Linked DNA regions of Homo sapiens: region 1 is linked to region 2. Evidence: fine-mapped expression QTL. A gene starts in region 2. The other region holds a variant in brackets. All regions are shown on one strand. Distances are between the middles of the regions. Region 1 overlaps RNF19B (ring finger protein 19B). Region 2 holds the start of YARS1 (tyrosyl-tRNA synthetase 1).

The links. PIP is the estimated chance that this variant, and not a neighbour inherited with it, causes the effect. A credible set is the group of variants that fine-mapping cannot tell apart.
Region 1: its variant is the best candidate, but not a certain one, in a credible set for the expression of YARS1 in whole blood (INTERVAL, PIP 0.59).

What each region holds. Positions count from the first base shown.
Region 1 is chr1:32,940,011-32,950,217 of GRCh38, reverse strand. RNF19B (ring finger protein 19B) reads left to right here. Exons shown (of 9, transcript NM_001300826.2): 2 at 444-649; 3 at 1,855-1,996; 4 at 3,654-3,816; 5 at 4,590-4,704; 6 at 6,059-6,199; 7 at 7,759-7,966. Among named protein-coding and RNA genes, the nearest start is that of RNF19B, 20 kb to the left of the region's middle. RefSeq lists an enhancer at 2,164-2,665. The variant T/C (reference allele first, on the strand shown) is at 5,779.
Region 2 is chr1:32,814,150-32,824,309 of GRCh38, reverse strand. It overlaps YARS1 (tyrosyl-tRNA synthetase 1), which reads left to right and starts at 6,952. Exons shown (of 13, transcript NM_003680.4): 1 at 6,952-7,122. The coding sequence starts at 7,066. S100PBP (S100P binding protein) reads right to left here and starts at 6,657. Exons shown (of 7, transcript NM_022753.4): 1 at 6,621-6,657. RefSeq lists enhancers at 4,951-5,080, 5,091-5,240, 5,701-5,810, 6,244-6,413, 6,781-7,090 and 2 more.

The DNA of each region.
Region 1 (10,207 bases), 130 kb before region 2:
GTGGATCACCTGAGGTCAGGAGTTTGAGACCAGCCTGGCCAACATGGTGAAACCCCATCTCTACTAAAAATACAAAAAAAATTAGCCAGGCGTGGTGGCTTGCACCTGTAATCCCAGCTACTAGGGAGTCTGTGGCAGGAGAATTGCTTGAACCTGGGAGGTGGAGGTTGTAGTAAGCCGAGATTACACCACTGCACTCCACAATCCAGCCTGGGTGACAGAGCAAGACTGTCTCAAAAAAAAAAAGTTTACTTTCTCACATGGGATATATTTTACAGTTGGTCAAATGTGCTTGTGTGTGTATATGTGTGTATGTGTATTCTTTTCTCTGTATCATATGTGATAGTGGGGTAGTGCCAAACATTGTTAACTCTGATGAATAATGTCTCTTTTGGTTAGATCATTCTTACCTTACTGGTATCTCTTACTGTTTCCTTACCTAGTTATGCTGTTATTGCCTATGGCTGTGCCAGCTGCCCGAAGCTAACTTGTGAGAGGGAAGGTTGCCAGACTGAGTTCTGCTACCACTGCAAGCAGATATGGCATCCAAATCAGACATGCGATATGGCCCGTCAACAGAGGGCCCAGACTTTACGAGTTCGGACCAAACACACTTCAGGTCTCAGTTATGGGCAAGAATCTGGACCAGGTATAAGTTGGCATTATCTCATTGTCTCTTTATTTGGTATTTCATGATGTGAGCCCATAGCTGAAAGAAATTATCTTATTGTATAACCCAAGTACTCCAAAGGATCAGAGAGCAGAAAATATCATTTGATAATACTTTCAATATTATAATAAAGATAGCACTTCCCTCTCTGACCATTATAGGTTATCCAACTATATAAAATTGAAATGCAACAAAATTGAATTATGTAGTTCCTACTTTCTTAGTAATATGTCTCAGATTGGAGAGCAATTAGTTCATTTTGTTTTGCTAGGGGCTTTTTCAAAACTTTCATTGTGAACAGAAAGACATTTAATTAGTATTAAACCTGTGCTGTTTGCCTTCAAGCTGACTTAAGTGCCTCACTGCCTTTGGAAGTAGAGTACAGATTGAAGAAAAGGAAACAGTATTAGTATAGATTAATGATTAACCTTAAAAGGAGGAATGTCACACATTCAGCTCCAACCTTGGCGAGTCAGAGGAAACCTATTTTAAAATGTCAGTGGATTTATTGCTTTGTACTTTTATTTTGCTGATGTCATTTGGGAGAGGCTAGTAGGAAAGATTTTGCCATTCACTTTTTCCTGGCACAGCATAATTTCCTAAATTGTCATTTTATTAGGATAGTTCATAACTTGCTCTGAAAATTACCAAGTATATGGTAGATAGCATACCCAGTTGTTTTTAGGTTTTGAATTTGAAAGTATCATGGGAAGGGATTGTGGGCTATGTTAACAGCAAATCACAATGATACATGTTGAACCTGAAAAATAAATTTCCCAAACTAAAGTTTTTAAAAATGTAAAGCTAATTCCAGGCTGCAGGCTATTCTTTCTGTAGGATTCTTCTTTTAAATCTACCAGCCTATCGACTGGTAGAAATTTCATTTTTCTTGGAAACATCTTTCTCCCTAAGGAAATCTCCTTGCTAGAATGTGGTTCAAGTGCTGTGTAAGATGCCAGTTGTTGGGATAGGCAGCTCAATAAGAGACAGGATTCATTTTATGAAAATTCCTGAGGTCTAGACATAGCCAACCTTCCAGTAAAGTGGGTTGTACAATTTGGAGTGTTCAGTGAAGAGTTCTTGACTGCTGCCTCATTTCTTATATATACTCCTAGGAACAATTAAATCAAACTGGATTTAACTAGGGGTATTTTTTCTACCCATTCTTCCCCCACTCATAGCAGATGACATCAAGCCATGCCCACGATGCAGTGCATACATTATCAAGATGAATGATGGAAGCTGTAATCACATGACCTGTGCAGTGTGTGGCTGTGAATTCTGTTGGCTTTGTATGAAAGAGATCTCAGACTTGCATTACCTCAGGTAAGATGGGAAATGCATCCATTCCTTTCGTAGTCTCATTCTCTTACTGATTTAGGGAAAAGGATGTCAAAAAGACACATCCGTTCTCTCATTACAGGTTTAAGGAAGCTGTGAAAACTTCTTCTGACATGCTCCTCTAATCATGTTTTCACCAGCTACTATTCTGTTTCTACCTTTCTTTGCTTGCCATATTACAGGTAGTCTGGACTTGCTTTTTCCCTTTTGCTGTCTTGCCTCCATACTTGTTCATGTTCTTTCCTTTGCCTAGAATGCTTTCTGCCTACCTTCCAGTATCCTCCTTTTATCTCAACTTGTTCAGTTCTTATCTTTTAAGAGCCACTTAAATGCCTTTCATCCATGTTGCCTCTCCTTTTTCCGCCTCATTCTTTGACTTTCTTTTATCTTTTGTCATAAATATCGTCAGTACTTTACACTTCACGTACCTATCTTATCTTACTAAACTGTAAGTATCTTGAGGCTAGAGTTGTGACCTTTTTACAGTTTTTTGCATTTAGTGAGTTCCCAAGGAATTCATTAAGTGAATTCTTTTTTTTTTTTTTTTTAAGACAGAGTTTCTCTCTGTCGCCCAGGCTGGAGTGCAGTGGCTCGATCTCGACTCACTGCAACCTCCACCTCCCAGGTTCAAGTGATTGTCCTGCCTCAGCCTCCTAAGTAGCTGGGATTACAGGCACCTGCCACCATGCCCAGCTAATTTTTGTATTTTTAGTGGAGGCGGGGTTTCACCATGTTAGCCAGCCTGGTCTCGAACTCGAACCTCAGGTGGTCCGCCTGCCTCGGCCTCCCAAAGTTCTGGGATTACAAGCGCGAGCCACCGCGCCCAGCCTCATTGAGTGAATATTAAAATGTTGTGGAGGAGTTAATATTTACAAACAAAATGTTTGCTAATATTTACAAATAAACAAAATGTGTTAATATTTACAAACAAACATTCATTGTGTAAATGAAACACAACACCTTCATTGCCAATTTGTCGAACATTTGAGTACTTACTGTGTGCTAGTCATTGGGGACATAGGGGTGAGTAAGACATGATCCCTATTTTCAAAATTGTTTATCCCTTCTAGTGGAGAAGATAGCACAAAGAGAATGGGCAAAAATGGTTGGGCACAGAAGGGCTGACTGTAAAAGTAGCCAAACTCAGAATACCAAACTGATAGAAAGGTTATGATGAGGTCTTTTTATATCCTCTCCCACGAACATGGTTTGCAGTATCTATTAGGTATGGTAGGACATATGCCAAGAAAACTACACAAATCAGAGTGTTCATTAGTGCAGGGTGCAGTGTGTCTGGATGGGATGTCAAGTGCATAAGGCTATGCAGCATCCCAAGTATTGTCAGTCATGGAAGCTAGATCAGTTTTGGTGGGTTAGGGAAGACAGAATTCAGCAGAGAAGAATGGAAAAGGAATTTCAAGTCTGGAAGCCTGTCTTTACAACAACAACCAAAAAAGTTAAAGAGCCCAGAGCTCTAATAGTCTGGCCTTGTCCTTTGCTCTCCCTTGTGTAATGTATTCATTTCCCATAAACTCTTCTGTTAATCCTTACTGAAAAGAAGGCTGTTGCTGTTATCAAGCCCTATGATAATACTAGCTGTATTTGTAATGTTGACATTAACTTCAGTCTGTTTCCCCTGCAGCCCCTCTGGCTGTACATTCTGGGGCAAGAAGCCATGGAGCCGTAAGAAGAAAATTCTTTGGCAGCTGGGCACGTTGATTGGTGCTCCAGTGGGGATTTCTCTCATTGCTGGCATTGCCATTCCTGCCATGGTCATTGGCATTCCTGTTTATGTTGGAAGGAAGGTAAGAAAGACATGCTGGTTTCTGTGCTTGTTTCAACTTTAGGTTCGTTAGTAAAGGTTTGAGGGAAATGGGAAGGAGCTATGTTTCAGAGCTGCCTGAAAACCAGCTGGTTCTTAGATAAAAATAACCTTACTTTCTTAAATGGATTTTCATAAACCCCCATGAGATCTGAAAGTTCTTATTAACATCCTGGGCCTGGCTTGTCTCAGTGACTTAAAGGTAGAATGCTGGGCCAGGCATGATGGTTCACATTTGTAATACGTGGCCTAGCACTTTGGGAAGCCAAGGCAGGTAGATCAGTTGAGCCCAGGTGTTTGAGACCAGCCTGGGCAACATGACAAAACCCATCTGTACCCAAAAAAATAGAAAAATTAGCTGGGTATGGTGGCATGTGCCTACAGTCCCAGCTACTAGGGAGGCTGAGGTGGGAGGATTGCTTGAGCCCAGGGACGTAGAGGTTGCAGTGAGCCAAGATCGCACCACTGCACTCCAGCCTGCATGACAGACTCCAAAAAAAAAAATAAAAGAAGAAGGTAAAATGCTTACTTCATTCTGCTGGAGTTATTTTGTCTCTTTTTGGATTAACTTTGCCTGTATTACTTTATATCTTCCAGGTCTGAGTTAGGTTAAAATTTGATAAAGATGCCTATTTGGGGTAGAGGATATGTTTTAATATAGATAACTTACAAGTGAATATTCACCTGTCCTTTTTTTCTCTGGCAAAAGATTGATGTCCTAACCTGCTGACCTGGATTTTCTTTTTTTATTCTTAGATTCACAGCAGGTATGAGGGAAGGAAAACCTCCAAACACAAGAGGAATTTGGCTATCACTGGAGGAGTGACTTTGTCGGTCATTGCATCCCCAGTTATTGCTGCAGTTAGTGTTGGTAAGCTAGTCAGGACCACACCTCTTCTCTCTCAGCTTTCTGACCATAGCAGTTTAGCCAGATGGCCAGATGTTTCTCAAAGACTCCTACATTTTATGCGAACCCACCTTGATAGTAAATTCTGTTAGGCACCATGATTATGATTATTTTTAAGTTTTTCAAGCACACCAAATTATCAGAGTGTGCAATCTTTTGTTCTTAAGTTAGTGCCTAGAACTCCATTTGGCACATAGAAAAGGTTGAATTACAGAAACTTATTTTAAGCCCTAGTTTTCACCTTTCATCTTCCTTCTCTACTTGCCATGAAATCCACAAAACAAAATTACTTTTGTTTTGATTTGTTTAATGCTTCACATTACTTTGGGAGGCATAAGAGTTTGTTTTAGAATAATAATAGTGTAACTAACATTTAATGTGGCTCTTCATGTGCCAGGAGTGGTTCTGAGACTTTTGCATATATTAATTTATTTAATCCTCACAATCCTTACAAAAGGAAGCACAATTTTAATAGAAAGGTGCAGTAATTGGCTGGGCGCAGTGGCTCACGCCTGTAATTCCAGTGTTTTGGGAGGCCGAGGCGGGCGGATCACGAGGTCAGGAGATCGAGACCATCCTGGCTAACACGGTGAAACCCCATCTCTACTAAAAATACAGAAAATCAGCCGGGTGTGGTAGCGGGTGCCTGTAGTCCCAGCTACTTGGGAGGCTGAGGCAGGAGAATGGCGTGAACCTGGGAGGCGGAGCTTGCAGTGAGCCGAGATCGTGCCACTGCACTCCAGCCTGGGCAACAGAGTGAGACTCCGTCTCAAAAAAAAAAAAGAAAGGTGCAGTAATTTTCCCAAGGTCACTTAGCTGGGACATGAATCAAGTTAATCTGCCTTCAGATCCTGTTCTCTTAACAGCTAAGCCATTCTACCTCACACAGCAGTAAGATTTTGGAATTAACATCCTGAGGAGATCCTAAACTCCAAGCAGTAGTCACTTATTTAATATTTGATTCTTGATTGGCTCTTGATTGGGTTAGCATTTCAGCAGTGATTAGAAGAGGGGAAAATGAAAGCAACATATATTTAC[T/C]GTGCAAAACACAGTACATAGCATTCTCATTTGATTATTGACAACCCTGGGAAGATAGGTCCAAGGTTATACAGCTAGTAAATGGAGCCAAGAATCTAATCCAGACCTTTCTGATTTCTAGCCTGGTCATCATTCTGTTACACCAGGCCACCTTTTTGGGATAGCCACTTTCTGTCTTCCTTTCTTTATAAAGTGGTTTGTCCATGCCCAGACTGGGAAGAAGAATTCAGGGCACTTGCAACCTAATAGCCAGCTGACATGTTTCCTTCTCTTCCCCCAGGTATTGGTGTCCCCATTATGCTGGCATATGTTTATGGGGTTGTGCCCATTTCTCTTTGTCGTGGAGGCGGCTGTGGAGTTAGCACAGCCAACGGAAAAGGAGTGAAAATTGAATTTGATGAAGATGATGGTCCAATCACAGGTAAAAAGCAGGATGTTTATTTCCATTTGAATTTATGATATACAAGATAAAAATCAGTAAAATTCAGCGCATTTTACAGGGAGATTGTCATTGGATTACTTTGGATAATGAGCTTTGTAGGGGGTAAAGTATTTTTAGCTTTTCATTTCTTTGTTCCAAAGTTATTAGGTTAATTCCCCTGGTACTTGCCTCTGTGTGGCAGGTACAAACTAGTAGGAATCCAAGTAACTCCAAGTATGCTGGTAGTAGTAGTGATTATAATAACATCTTTATATCTGCACAGTACTTGATAATTTTCAGAGTATTTTACACAATTATCTCACTTGCTTTTTACAACAAACAGCTCTCTGACGAGGGAGGATGGAGCTGTTATCCCCATTTAAATGGGAATTTCTTTTTTTTTTTTTGAGACGGAGTCTCTGTCACCCAGGCTGGAGTACGATGTCGCGATCTCGGTTCACTGCAACCTCCGCCTCCCAGGTTCAAGTGATTCTCCTGCCTCAGCCTCCTGAGTAGCTGGGACTACAGCAACGTGCCACCACGCCTGGCTAATTTTTTTTTTTTAGTATAGACGGGGTTTGGTGTTTCACCGTGTTAGCCAGGAAGATCTCGATCTCCTCACCCCATGATCCGCCCACCTTGGCCTCCCAAAGTGCTGGGATTACAGGTGTGAGCCACCACATCTGGCCTAAATGGGAATTTCTTTAAGCTTTCATCTTACTATCTATTAAGAGCTTCACAGAGCTGAGACTAGGGCAAGTCTTCTGACTTTTACTTTAATGTGGTTTCTACTCGTAGTAAGTAACGTAGGGCACAAGTAACGTAGAAAACCCCAAAGGTTTTTCTAGCTTCCTTTTTTCTTTTCTTTTTTTTTTTTTGAGACGGAGTCTTGCTCTGTTGCCCAGGCTGGAGTGCAGTGGCATGGTCCTGGCTCACTGCAGGCTCCGGCTCCTGGGTTCGCGTCATTCTCCTGCCTCAGCCTCCCGAGTAGCTGGGACTACAGGCACCCGCCACCACGCCCGGCTAAATTTTTTGTATTTTTAGTAGAGATGGGGTTTCACCGTGTTAGCCAGGATGGTCTCCATCTCCTGACCTCGTGATCCGCCCGCCTCGGCCTCCCAAAGTGCTGGAAGTACAGGCGTGAGCCACCGCGCCCGGCCGGTTTTTCTAGCTTTCTACTAGAAGCTTCCTATTAAAATCAGCACATGACCCAAACATATTTTTTAAATCTTCACGTTTGGTTACATGGAAGCAACAGTGTAGTGGAAAGAATAGTGGCCTTGGAATCAGAGTTATAGTTTCATGTAACTACCATGGCCTTGGACAAGTCATTTAGTTTTAAATTTTAGTTTTCTCATCTAAAATTGAGGCTATTAATGCCTAGTTATTTGGAGGATTAAATATGAACATATGTTAAAACACCTGATATGTGGCGACTGCACACAGTACCTGTTCATTAAGTAAATACATTAGTTCTCTGAAAAGTCATTGCAGGAAAATGCCTACTGACTGTTTTGATGCTCTGCTGTCTTGAATTGGATGTTTGGTTCTATCCCCAGTGGCAGATGCCTGGAGAGCCCTCAAGAATCCCAGCATTGGGGAAAGCAGCATTGAAGGCCTGACTAGTGTATTGAGCACTAGTGGAAGCCCTACAGATGGACTTAGTGTTATGCAAGGTCCTTACAGCGAAACGGCCAGCTTTGCAGCCCTCTCAGGGGGCACGCTGAGTGGCGGCATTCTCTCCAGTGGCAAGGGAAAATATAGCAGGTAAACAAATAGATAATTTCTGACAGAAATGGTTAGAATTATAAGAAGTAACACATTGAGCCATTTCTCTGTGCCAGGCTTGTGCCACGTATCATCTTATTTTGATTTAATTGTCAATGGTTTTGTTTTGTTTTGTTTTTACTTTTTTATTTTTAAAGACAGAGTCTCACTCTGTGGCTCAGGCTGGAGTGCCATGGCGTGATCTCGGCTCACTGCAAGCTCCGCCTCCTGGGTTCAAGCGATTCTCCTGCCTCAGCCTACTGAGTAGCTGGGATTACAGGCACCCGCCACCACGCCCAGCTAATTTTTTGTATTTTTAGTAGAGATGGAGTTTCACCATGTTAGCTAGGATGGTCTCAATCTCCTGACCTCGTGATCCGCCCGCCTTGGCCTCCCAAACCGTTGGGATTACAGGCATGAGTCACTGCGACAGGCCTTTTTTTTTTTACTTTTACAAATAGGAAACAAGCTTAGAAAAAAAGGTTACGTCAGTTATGCAAAGTTCATTGTTCTTTCCATTGCACCATAGCTGCCTCTATATAAAGAATAATCCTGACTTGAGATTCCCCCTTGACTGCCTGAGGCTGCCTGCTTCAGGAAGGGAGAGTAGGCATTTTTATAGAATTCGTAAAATGCTCTCCGTTAGGCTTGTCATTGGCTTTCAGTAGCATTTATGCTGTATCATGGCTTATTTATTTTATTTTATTTTTTTGAGACGGAGTCTTGCTCTGTCGCCCAGGCTGGAGTGCAATGGTGCAATCTTGGCTCGCTGCAGCCTCCACCTCCTGGGTTCTAGTGATTGTCCTGCCTCAGCCTCCCAAGAGGCTGGGACTACAGGCGTGCACCACCATGCCTGGCTAATTTTTGTATTTTCAGTAGAGACAGGGTTTCATGTTGGCCAGGCTGGTCTCAAGCTCCTGACCTTGTGATCCACCCGCCTCAGCCTCCCAAAGTGCTGGGATTACAAGCATGAACCACCACACCCAGCCCATCATGGTTTATTGATAGTGGGCTTTGGGGATTTTTTTTTGTTTTTTTTCTCACTGTGTCATCCAGGCTGGAATGCAGTGGCACAATCATGGCTCACTGCAGCCTCAACTTCCTGGACTCAGGCAATCCTACCACCTCAGCCTCCTGAGTAGCTAGGACTACAAGTGCACACACCACACCCAGCTAACATTTTAAATTTTTTGTAGAGATGGGGTCTTGCTCGGTTACCCAGGCTGGTCTTAAACTCCTGGCCTGAAGCCATCCTCCCAACTTGGCTCCCAACGTGCTAGGATTATAGGCATGAACCATTGCCCCCAGCTGGTTTAGTGATACTGCAATCCTTATTACCTTTCTATTTCCATTTGCTAGATAAGGAAAATCAATTCTATGTACTTGTGTTGAAAATATGTAAAGCTTTGTAACTAAAAAGATTGTGACTTGCTTGGTCATTTCACTAGTTAGGCAGACCAGAGTGTATATTTTCAGAGGAGCATAACATGTTGCCTGAGAAGCAGTTGAATGCAACGGAGAAGAAAGGCCTAGGGAGGGGTAAAGGTAGAACAAAGCAGGATAGGAAGGTAGAGGAGATGGTTGCCTTCAGCTATCCAAAGGACCTTCAACTGTGAAAAGGATTAGACTTCTATGCCTCATACCAAAAGGTAGATTAAGATGACTTGGCAGAAGCTAAAGGGAAACTAATTTTGGTTCAGTATAGAGAATATAGGGAAAAGCAACATGAAAGCCCAAAGAGGAAAAAGGCTACTTTAGTAGATACTGAGCTGCCTATCCCTGGAAATGTTTACAATGAGACCAGATGGCTATTTGGCTATAAGAAGGATTCAAGCAACAGATGGCAGGTGGACTGGATCTCCCACCTGAGTGCCTGTCAATCACTTGGGAGCCTCTTAAAAATAGACTTCAGGGACCCATCCCAGAATGAGTAGCTTAGAATTTCCTGGAGTGGCACCTAGGGGGTGATCCGTGTTTTGCAAAAGCTCCCCAGGTAATTCTAGCACAGCCGTTGCATGAACCAGCATCTGACAACCACCTAAGTAGGAGCCCTTTCTGAAAGACTCTTCCAACTCAGAGTGATTCTGTGGCAGACCTGAAACTAGAAGCCAGGTCTCTGACACTGTGCACTTTCCATTGCATTCCCTCATTTCCCTGGGCCTTGGCACATTTTTGAAGGGCACCTGAAGCTGGAGCAGCAAAGCAAAGGCTCAGGCAGTAGGATGGAAGCTGCTTGAATGT
Region 2 (10,160 bases):
TACTTGTAGCCTTGTTAACTATAAAATTTCCCCTACTCCATGACCCTCCATACCACACCCTGAGCTTTAACTTTAGTTCATGCATTCCTTTTTTTTTTTTTTTTGAGACGGAGTCTCACTCTGTTGCCCAGGCTAGAGTGCAGTGGCACGATCTTGCGATCTTGGCTCACTGCAAGCTCCGCCTCCCAGGTTCACGCCATTCTCCTGCCTCAGCCTCCCGAGTAGCTGGGACTACAGGTGACCGCCACCACGCCCGGCTAATTTGTTGTATTTTTAGTAGAGATGGGGTTTCACTGTGTTAGCCAGGATGGTCTCCATCTCCTGACCTTGTGATCCGCCTGCCTCGGCCTCCCAAAGTGCTGGGATTATAGGCGTGAGCCACTGCACCCAGCCTAGTTCATGCATTCTTTTAGAAGATATTTTTTGAGCTACAATCATCACACACCACAAGCTGCATATGTCTCTTTATGATTTCCAACAAATCAAGGTATAGCTCCTGCCCTCATAATGTATAATACGTAATGTATAATCTTAATGTATAATCTTGCTAGAGAAACAACACTGAAAATTAAACACCAACATGAGATAATATAAAATGGTATGGACAATAAAGTACTAGAGAAAGAGAAGCAAAGGGAGGGATTATAGAGTTCTAGAATTAGAAGGGACCTAGTTAAACTTACTCATATTAGAAATGAAATGGGAGAAAAAGAAATACTAAATACCTATTATAAACCAGGTGCTCTGAGACACATTTTACGACTCTAACTTAGCCTCTCAACACAATTCTGTAAAATTAATCTTATCAAAGAAATCATTTTGTTGTATTTAAACCTAGAGCTGCTAAAACTTATTTTATTTTACCAATACTATATTCCAGCAATTGTTGAGAGTTCTAGGTGTTGAAGCAGCTGCCTCTATGAAAAGTAATTTCTCTGCATTAGTGACTGAGTTATTCATTTCTTTAGGAAGCAGTTAGAAAAAAAAGTTTAGTATGGAAAACATTCTTTGACTTAAGAAAATTTATGGTTGTCAGACAGGTTATCACAGGCACTGGGGTTAAGCAGCTACATTTCTTAGATGCCCTTTCTGGGCCATTGCCCCCCATTCTAACTCCTTACAAAAGGTCTAGTTCAAGCCCTTGGTTGGCCAAATGGAGAGTTCAATAGATTTTTCCCTCTTGGGAAACTAAAGTTCAGAAGCATGAAGTAACTTAACTGAGTATACATAGCTAATAATGTTAGAACAAGGATCGAAACCCAGGTCTAATTCCAAATGCAATGTTTTTCCCACTACATCTGTGACAGACTTGCACAGGATTGGTCAGCAAATGGCAGAGCTAGAATCCAAACTCAGGCCTTCTAAATTCAGTACAATCTATAACAAACTGTGCAAGAGTAAAGACCAAAGAGGGCTTTTGGTCTCTTGGAAAAAATATTTTAAGCCACCTTAATAGGACCAATATCCTTCGTAACCATTGCAATAATCAATTCCTACACAACATGACATTCAGATGCAAAAAAATGGGCTTTTCTGAGCTTCTTATGTTCCAATAGATCTGGGAACAAAAGTATACAAAACAATACCATATATATGGTATATATAGAGAGGAGGAGATAATTTTAATTTGTACAAACCATTCTCTTTCTGATGTCTGATGTTACTTCCTCTTTTTTTTTTTTTTTTTTTGAAACGGAGTCTAGCTCTGTAGCCCAGACTGGAGTGCAGTGGCGCGATCTCGGCTCACTGCAAGCTCTGTCTGCCTCCCGGGTTCACACCATTCTCCTGCTTCACTCAGCCTCCCGAGTAGCTGGGACTGCAGGCGCCCGCCACCACGCCTGGCTAATTTTTGTATTTTTAGTAGAGACGGGGTTTCACAGTGTTAGCCAGGATGGTCTTGATCTCCTGACCTCAGGTGATCCGCCCGCCTCGGCCTCCCAAAGTGCTGGGATTACAGGCGTGAGCCACCGCGCCCGGCCATTTCCTCATTTTCAAAAGTACTTATTATAAAGAAAGTAAAACATATACATAAGTAACATAATAGTATAATGAACCACCACATACCCATCACTCAACCCCAATGACTATCAACTCATAGCTAATCTTGCCCCATCCACTTCCCACCTTTACCAGATTGTTTTGAAGCAAATCCCAGGCATTGTATCATTTCATCTGTAAATAACAAGAATTCCTTATCATAAAATATACAGTTCAGATTTCCAATTATCTTATGTCATATTTTTTTTTAAGGCTAAAAAATAATCAGTATCCAAGTAAGGTCCATACAATGTGACTGGCTGATAATGTCTTATGTGTATTTTAATCTAAAAATTTCAGATCTTTTCCCCCTGCAATTACTTTATTAAAAAAACAATACGCGAGATGGCTTACGCCTGTAATCCCAGCACTTTCGGAGGCTAAGTTGGGCGGATCACTTGAGGCCAGGAGTTCGAGACCAGCCTGACCAACATGGCGGAACCCCATTTCTACTAAAACTACAAAGAAAATTTAGCTGGGCATGGTGACGCGGGCCTGTAGCCCCAGCTATTCAGAAGTCTGAGGCAGGAGACTCGCTGAAACCCAGGAGGCGGAGGTTGCAGTGGGCAGAGATCGCACCACTACACTCCAGCCTGGGTGACAGAGTAAAACTGTATCAAAAAAAAAAAAAAGAAAGAAAGAAAAAAGAAACAGGCCAGGCGCAGTGGCTCACGCCTGTAATCCTAGCACTTTGGGAGGCCGAGGAGGGCGGATCACGAGGTCAGGAGTTCGAGACCATCTGGACCAACCTGGTGAAACCCCAACTCTACTAAAAGTACAAAAATTAGCTGGGCTTGGTGGCGCGCACCTATAACCCCAGCTATTCGAGAGGCTGAGGCAGGGGAACTGTTTGAACCCAGGAGGCAGAGGTTGCAGTGAGCCCAGACCGCGCCACTGCACTCCAGCCTGGGTGACAGAGCAAGAGTCAGTCTCAAAAAACAACAACAAAAAAGCCACAATACCACGTATTATGTATGGATACATATATCACAAAATTATTAAAATATGCATGAAAGGCCGGAATTCAGGATGGTCTTGATCTCCTGACCTCGTGATCCGTCCGCCTCAGCCTCCCAAAGTGCTGGGATTACAGGTGTGAACCACCGCGCCCGGCCAATGTTTTATTTCTTAAGAAAACAATATCTCATCTTAGGCTACATGACAATAAATAAATAAGGAAAAAAAAATAGCAAGAAGAGACCTGAAACAAATATGGCAACCTAAGACAAAGCAGCATGCTAGGTATAATAATGTTCATTATGTTACTTTTACACTGTTAAATTATTGTTATTTTTTTGAGACAGGGTCTCAGGTTTGTTGCCCAGGCAGAAAACAGTGGCGTGATCATAGCTCACTGCAGCCTTGAACCCCAGGGCTGCTGGGACTACAGGTACACACCACCATACACAGCTAATTTTTTATTTTTATTTTTTGTAGAGACATAGTCTCATTATGTTGCCCAGGCTGGTATTGAACTCCTGGAGTCAAGCGATCCTTCTGCATTGGTTTTCCAAAGTGCTGGGATTACAGGCATTGAGCCACCATACCCAGCCACTATACTTTTTTATATGCTTGAAATAATAAAAACATCTTAAAATTATGAAGTCAATGGGAAAGATACAATGATTATACTCTGTGAAGTATCAAATGTCCTCATATATCACAGTACCTACCTGATAGGGTTGTGGCAAGAATTAAATGAGATCGTGAACATAAATGTGGCACACTAGAGGCATGGCATAAGAGACAAATAACTGGTGGCCATAGTTATTATTTCACCCCACCACCATCATTGCCCCGATCCCTGGAGTCTTAAGAGAAGCATAGGGCCAGGCGCAGAGGCTGATTCCTGTAATCCCAGCACTTTGGGAGGCTGAGGTGGGTGGATCACCTGAGGTCAGGAGTTCAAGACCAGCCTGGCCAACATGGTGAAACCCTGTCTCTACTAAAAATACAAAGATTAGCCGGGTGTGTGGTGCATGCCTGTAATCCCAGCTACTTGGGAGGCTGAAGCAGGAGAATCGCTGGAACCCAGGAAGCGGAGGTTGCAGTGAACTGAGATCGCACCACTGCACTCCAGCCTGGGTGACAGAGCGAGACTCCATCTCAAAAAAAAAAAAAAAAAAAAGCATAGGAACGGTAGGAAAAAAGAGTGCTAAACTGGTAGGGAATTTCCCCTAGACCCTGCTTGAAATTATCTAATATACTCTACTCTTATCTAGTTTAATCCAGCACTCAACCATATTGTCACTGAAGACCAGACTAGGTAGACATCTGAAATATCCGGCAAATTATGCAAATTAATGTTCACTGAACTATCCTTTATAGAGGTACTGGACCTCAGCAATTCACTTCAAGTCTCTGAACTTCAATACAGATGAGAACATGCATCTAAAAAGGGGGTAAATACTGTTAACTTCAAACACAGATTATCATGAGAAAAAATAGGATGTTTATGAAAGTACTCTAAACCTAAAAGTTCTATACTAAAAAAACATGGTATTTAATGAATGTGCAAGGGGGGAAATCCTCATATAAAACTGAAGTTCTTCAGTGAAATTCCAAAGACAGCCTTACTTATTACTTCTCTGTCAAAAGAAGGCTTGCTTACTTCTCTGTCTACCATCTACCACCTTTCTTAGCACTTGTCTGGTAACCTCCACTTAAAATATGGGGACCCCTTTATTTTTTTATTTTATTTTTATTTTTGAGACAGGGTCTCACTCAATCACCCAGGCTGAAATGCAGTGGCGTGATCTGGGCTCACTGCAACCTCTGCCTCCCAGTTTCAAGCGATTCTCATGCCACAGCCTCCCAGTAGCTGGGATTACAGGCGTCCACCATGCTAGGCTAATTTTTGTATTTACAGTAGAGATGGGGTTTTGCTATGTTGGCCAGTCTAGTCTTGAACTCCTGGCCTCAAGCAATCCTCCGGCCTCGGCCTCCCCAAGTGCTGGGATTACAGGCGTGAGCCACCATGTCTGGCCATATCCCTTCATTTTTAAGGGAAGAATATTTTTCCGATCTTCTAATTCTATTTCTTAGTTCCTCTACACCCCATCCTTTCTGTGACCCCATTCTGTCCTTCCACATCTCTCTCACCTGTCCACCCCCTTCTTCACACTTCAGTTTACCACCCCCTCTCTGTTCTCGAACCTCCTGGTTGCAACCTCAGAAACTGGTTCCCTTTCTATTTTTATCTCACCTCAGAAAACCTACTGCCTTCGAGCACAAAGCCTTACTTTATTGAGGCCACTAAAACTGCAACACCAGATGCAAGCCCACATCCTCTTTCAAGCTCTAAAGTCAAGACCATTACCAAGCAGGGTCTGACAGGTACAGCCAAGAGCAGAGATTATTTCCAGTGGACAAGACTTCCCCCTGGCCTTTGATTTCCAACCTTTCCCAAATGCAATACATGTGAAGCACACAGCACGAAACGCACTCAGCAGGCTTTATCACTCCATAAAAAATAGGCACAACATTTACAAAAAATCAAAAAGAACTGAAATTATCTGTAACAGTTTTGCAAATTCCTTCGAAGTAACTAAAAACACTGCAGGACGGAAAAAACAACCCAGGGCTGCAAATCTTTGCTTTAGGTAACATTTCACTAGATGAGGGTGCCAGGATTCTCCTCCCACATGGACACAGAGAACAGATGCGCTAAGCTGCAGCAACAGGTTTCTTTTCAAAAAGAAAATGTGCTTTAAAACACTTCAGGCAGGTCTGGTAGAGCTTGGAGTCCCTAATAAATACACAAAACACCGGAGATCAGGTTAGGGCAGGCCGTGGGCAATTCAACCACTTCTAGGACCTTTCCAGGGCCCACTGAGGTAATAACTGCTTTCCCTCTTGCCCTGGAAGTAACTGGTGACGCCGCCTCCAGCCCTTGAGGAGCCGGAGAAAGGGTGGCCCAGGCCCAACCTTTGGAGGATACTGCCTTGGCTCTCTCTCACAAATGCAACGGCCCGGGACGGTGTCGCCTTCCAGGAAGGGCCTTTGCGTCTCCCTCCCCCGGGGACACCGCGAATTCCCGCCTCCCGGCGGAAAGCGGGAGAAGCGAGAGTTTTCTCCCCGCCCCTCCCCCAGTAGGGGCAAACCCGCCCCTCAGCAGGCCTGTGCTGTGCGCTCCTCTCCCGGGGACCACCGTCCTCAGATCTCCCCAGGGAATGGGTCGTCCTCTTCCTGCCCCCACCCGCGAGACGCGGCAGAAAAGCCCGCGGCTATCTTCCCGCCAGCAACAGCCTCCCGCCGAGCCGGCCGGGACAGAGGCGGCCCCCACCCCCACTGGGCAGGGGACTGCAGACGGCGCTCCCCGACTCTCAAGACGACCAGGGAGCTTCCCTTTTCCTCAGCGGGGTGAGGGGCATCTGTCGCCCGCCGACTTGGAGGTGGAGGGGCAGGGACATTCCCTCGCCATCACCTCAGGAGCTAGAACGCGCCCTTCTCGCAGCAGGGCGTGGGCCTCCCAATCCCTCCAAGGGGCGGACGGCGTGCGCAACCCCCTGGAGAAGCAACAGGCGCCCCCATCCCCCTCCAAGCCGGGTAACGCCGACCCCCTCGTCCCTCCCGCTCTTCACCTCCGGAAGCCGGGCCAAAGCCTGGGCGAACGACTGCGCCTCACTCCGCCCCCTGCGCCATTTTATCGCCCCCTCCCCGACCTCCCCTACCCCGAGTCAGCCGGGCCAACACCAGGGGGAGGGCAAACCAGCAGTGATTGGCAGGAAACCGTCCCGCCTCTAGGAGGGTTGTGCCCCGCTCAGGCGCCTCAGCCCCGCCCTCCGCACCGCCCACCGTGCCCACTGGCTCCACCTTTTCCCGTCTCATCGACCTGCTCGACTCTCTGCTGCTCCTCACTTTTTCCGGCCGCTGCCGGAGGGGTCCAGGCCGAGTAAGCGGAGCGCCGAGCCCAGCTGATGCAACCTGGCTGGACTCGCGTGACAGTTCCCGGCACGCGGCGGCGACGGTGACCCAGGAAGGGGCTCTGGTGCCGGGCTGAGCGGGGGAAGCAGGGGTAGCGGAGCCATGGGGGACGCTCCCAGCCCTGAAGAGAAACTGCACCTTATCACCCGGAACCTGCAGGTCAGGCCTGGGGGTTGGAAATGCGCCGTTGGGGATTAGGAGCCCGAGGTTCAGTGATTTTGAGCCCCATTACGGGGTTCTAAGTATGTGGGGCCGGGGACTCGGCGCTGGCGCAGCTCTGAGAGAGCCTGTAGATCTCACTGCTGGTCGGTCAGTCAATCAAGCAGCCCTTCCCTGGGTTCCCCAGAAATCACAGTGGGCTCACCTCTTGCGTCCAGTTGTCTTGTGTTGGAGCCAAACTTTGAATCCAGGACTCCCATTCCACCCCCCTATTAAGTGCCAGACGTGGTGCTTAGTCGCTGGGGATACGTCAAGGGCCTGCCAGAGCTTGTCTGAAGGGGATCAGACGTTAAAAATGACCCATTACGGTTCAAGTAAGTACTGGAAGATGCTATACTGGGAGCTTTAAAGGGAAAGAGAGAAGGGAAGGCTTCCCTGAGGAAGTGACCTCCAAACTGCGCCTTGAAGGAAATGGATCCCCCCCCCTCACTCCACAAATGTTCCGTTTGTTACCAAGAACTACAGGAGTAGAAGTGAACCAGAGGAAGAATGGAAGAATAAGGAGGGAGAGCATTTCAGATGGAGGAAACAGAAATTGTGGCAAATTTAGCTGGAGTGGAGTGAGCAAAGTTATGAGGAAGCACTTAAATATTTATATTGCTTACCCCTTAACTTTTTCAGGCTTCTGACTGTTGTCACCTTATCAGCGACGCATGATTTCCGACCACTTTATTTAAATAACAAACCCTCTGGCACCAGAACTGCCCCATACCTTGCTCTGCCTTTTTTTTGTTATTGTTTCTACATAGTATACATTTTATTTATTTGTTTAAGAGAGGTAGGCAGGGACCAAGTCACGGGAGCCTTGCAGGCCTTATTCTGTTCAATTTTAAATTGGGCTTCCTTCTAAGAGTAGTGATAAATCAGTTGGGCCACACAGCCTGTTCTGTTTTTTCTTTTTAGAGATGTACTTCACATACTATAAAATTCACCCTTTTAAAGTGCACAATTCAGTGGGTTTTAGTATGTTCACAAGGTTGTGCAACCATCACACTATCTTTTTTTTTTTTTTTTTTTTTGAGGCGGAGTCTCGCTCTGTCGCCCAGGCTGGAGTGCAGTGGCCCAATCTCGGCTCATTGCAACCTCCGCCTCCCAGGTTCACGCCATTCTCCTGCCTCAGCCTCCCGAGTAGCTGGGACTACAGGTGACCGCCCCCACGCCCGGCTAATTTTTTGTATTTTTAGTAGAGACGGGGTTTCACCGTGTTAGCCAGGGTGGTCTCGATCTCCTGACCTCGTGATCCACCCTCCTTGGCCTCCCAGAGTGCTGGGATTACAGGCGTGAGCCACGGCTCCCGGCCACAACCATCACACTATCTAATAAAACTTGCACCCGTTAGCAGACGCTACCTATTACCCACTACTCCTAGCCTTAGAGAAACACTAATCTACTCTCTGTCTCCAGGTATTTGCGTATTCTGGGCATTTCCTGTAACTAGAATCATACAATATGTTTGTTGTGTCTGACTTTTTGCACTTAGCATAATGTTTTCAAAGTTCATGCATGTATTTGCACCTAGCAGAACGTCATTCCTTTTTATGGTTGAATGATACTCTGTTGTATGGATATACATTTTGTTTATCCGTTCATCAGTTGATGGACATTTGGGTTATTCCATTTACAACTTAGTCTTAACCAAAGGTTTTTGCACGCTTCCCCTAGCTAGATTCTTTGTTTCCTATTCTCTCTCCATAAAATAGTGCTGGTTGGAGACTAAAAATACACAAAACTATTAGAATTGACTCAATTGGGTTTTTTGTTTTGGGGATTTTTTTTCTGGAACGGAGTTTATCTCTTGTCGGCCAGGCTGGAGTGCAATGGCACAATCTCAGCTCACTGCAACCTCTGCCTCCTGGGCTCAAGTGATTCTCCTGCCTCAGCCTCCTGAGTAGCTGGGATTACAGACGTGCACCACCACGCCGGGCTAATTTTTGTATTTTTAGTAGAGACGGGGTTTCACCATGCTGGCCAGGCTGGTCTCAAATTCCTGACCTCAAGTTATCCGCCAAATTCGGCGTCCCAAAGTGCTGGGATTACAGAGTGAGCCACAGTGCCCGGCCTCACTCAGGTTTTAAAGGCTAAGTAATGTGACATCTTCTTGGATGGTGAGAACCCTCCAAGTGTCCACGTTGTCAGGGGTGCTCTTGAGCATGCGGGATCAGCTGCCAAAAGACTTGGAGCACAGGAGTTTAACAAGTCCTGGTAAAACATGATTCAAACCAGCAGTCTATCATGGTTTCTGACAGCCTCCCAAAACCGTAACTTGAGGAAACACTACAACCTCTTATCGGGGTACACTGGCCTGTTAGAATTTTTCCAATACTGTCATAGGACAAAAAGAAATCATTAAAGGTTTGTAAAAAGGAAAATGAGTTTTAAAGAAGTTTTTGAGTTTTAAAAGACTGTCTCTGGCTACCTTTTAGAACATGGATTGGAGGGGCCAAGCGCAGTGGCTCATGCCGGTAATCCCAACACTTTGGGAGGCCCACACGGGCAGATCACTTGAGGTTGGGAGTTCAAGACCAGCCTGGCCAACATAGTGAAACCCCATCTCTACTAAAAATACAAAAATTTCTCTGGCCTGGTGGCGGGCACCTGTAATTCCAGCTATTTGGGAGACTGAAGCAGGAGAATCGTTTGAACCCGGGAGCAGAGGTTGCAGTGACTCAGGATTGCATCACTGCACTCCAGCTTGGGTGACAGAGCAAGACTCCGTCTCAAAAAAATAAAAAAGAACTTGGATTGGAGGGAGTAAGAGTAGATTTGGGAGACCTGTTAGGAGAATGTTACGGTAATCCTGGTGTGATCTGATAGGGCCTGGATTTGGGTGGTGATGTAGAGGCAGAGAGAAATAGGAGGGTTGAAGAGCAGTTTTGGAGTCCTTGAACAACTCTAAATGATGGTACCATTTACTGTAGTAGGAGTGAAACTATCAGTGAAAAAGATGGTTGGGGAGTGAAGTAAGAAGTCAAGAGCAT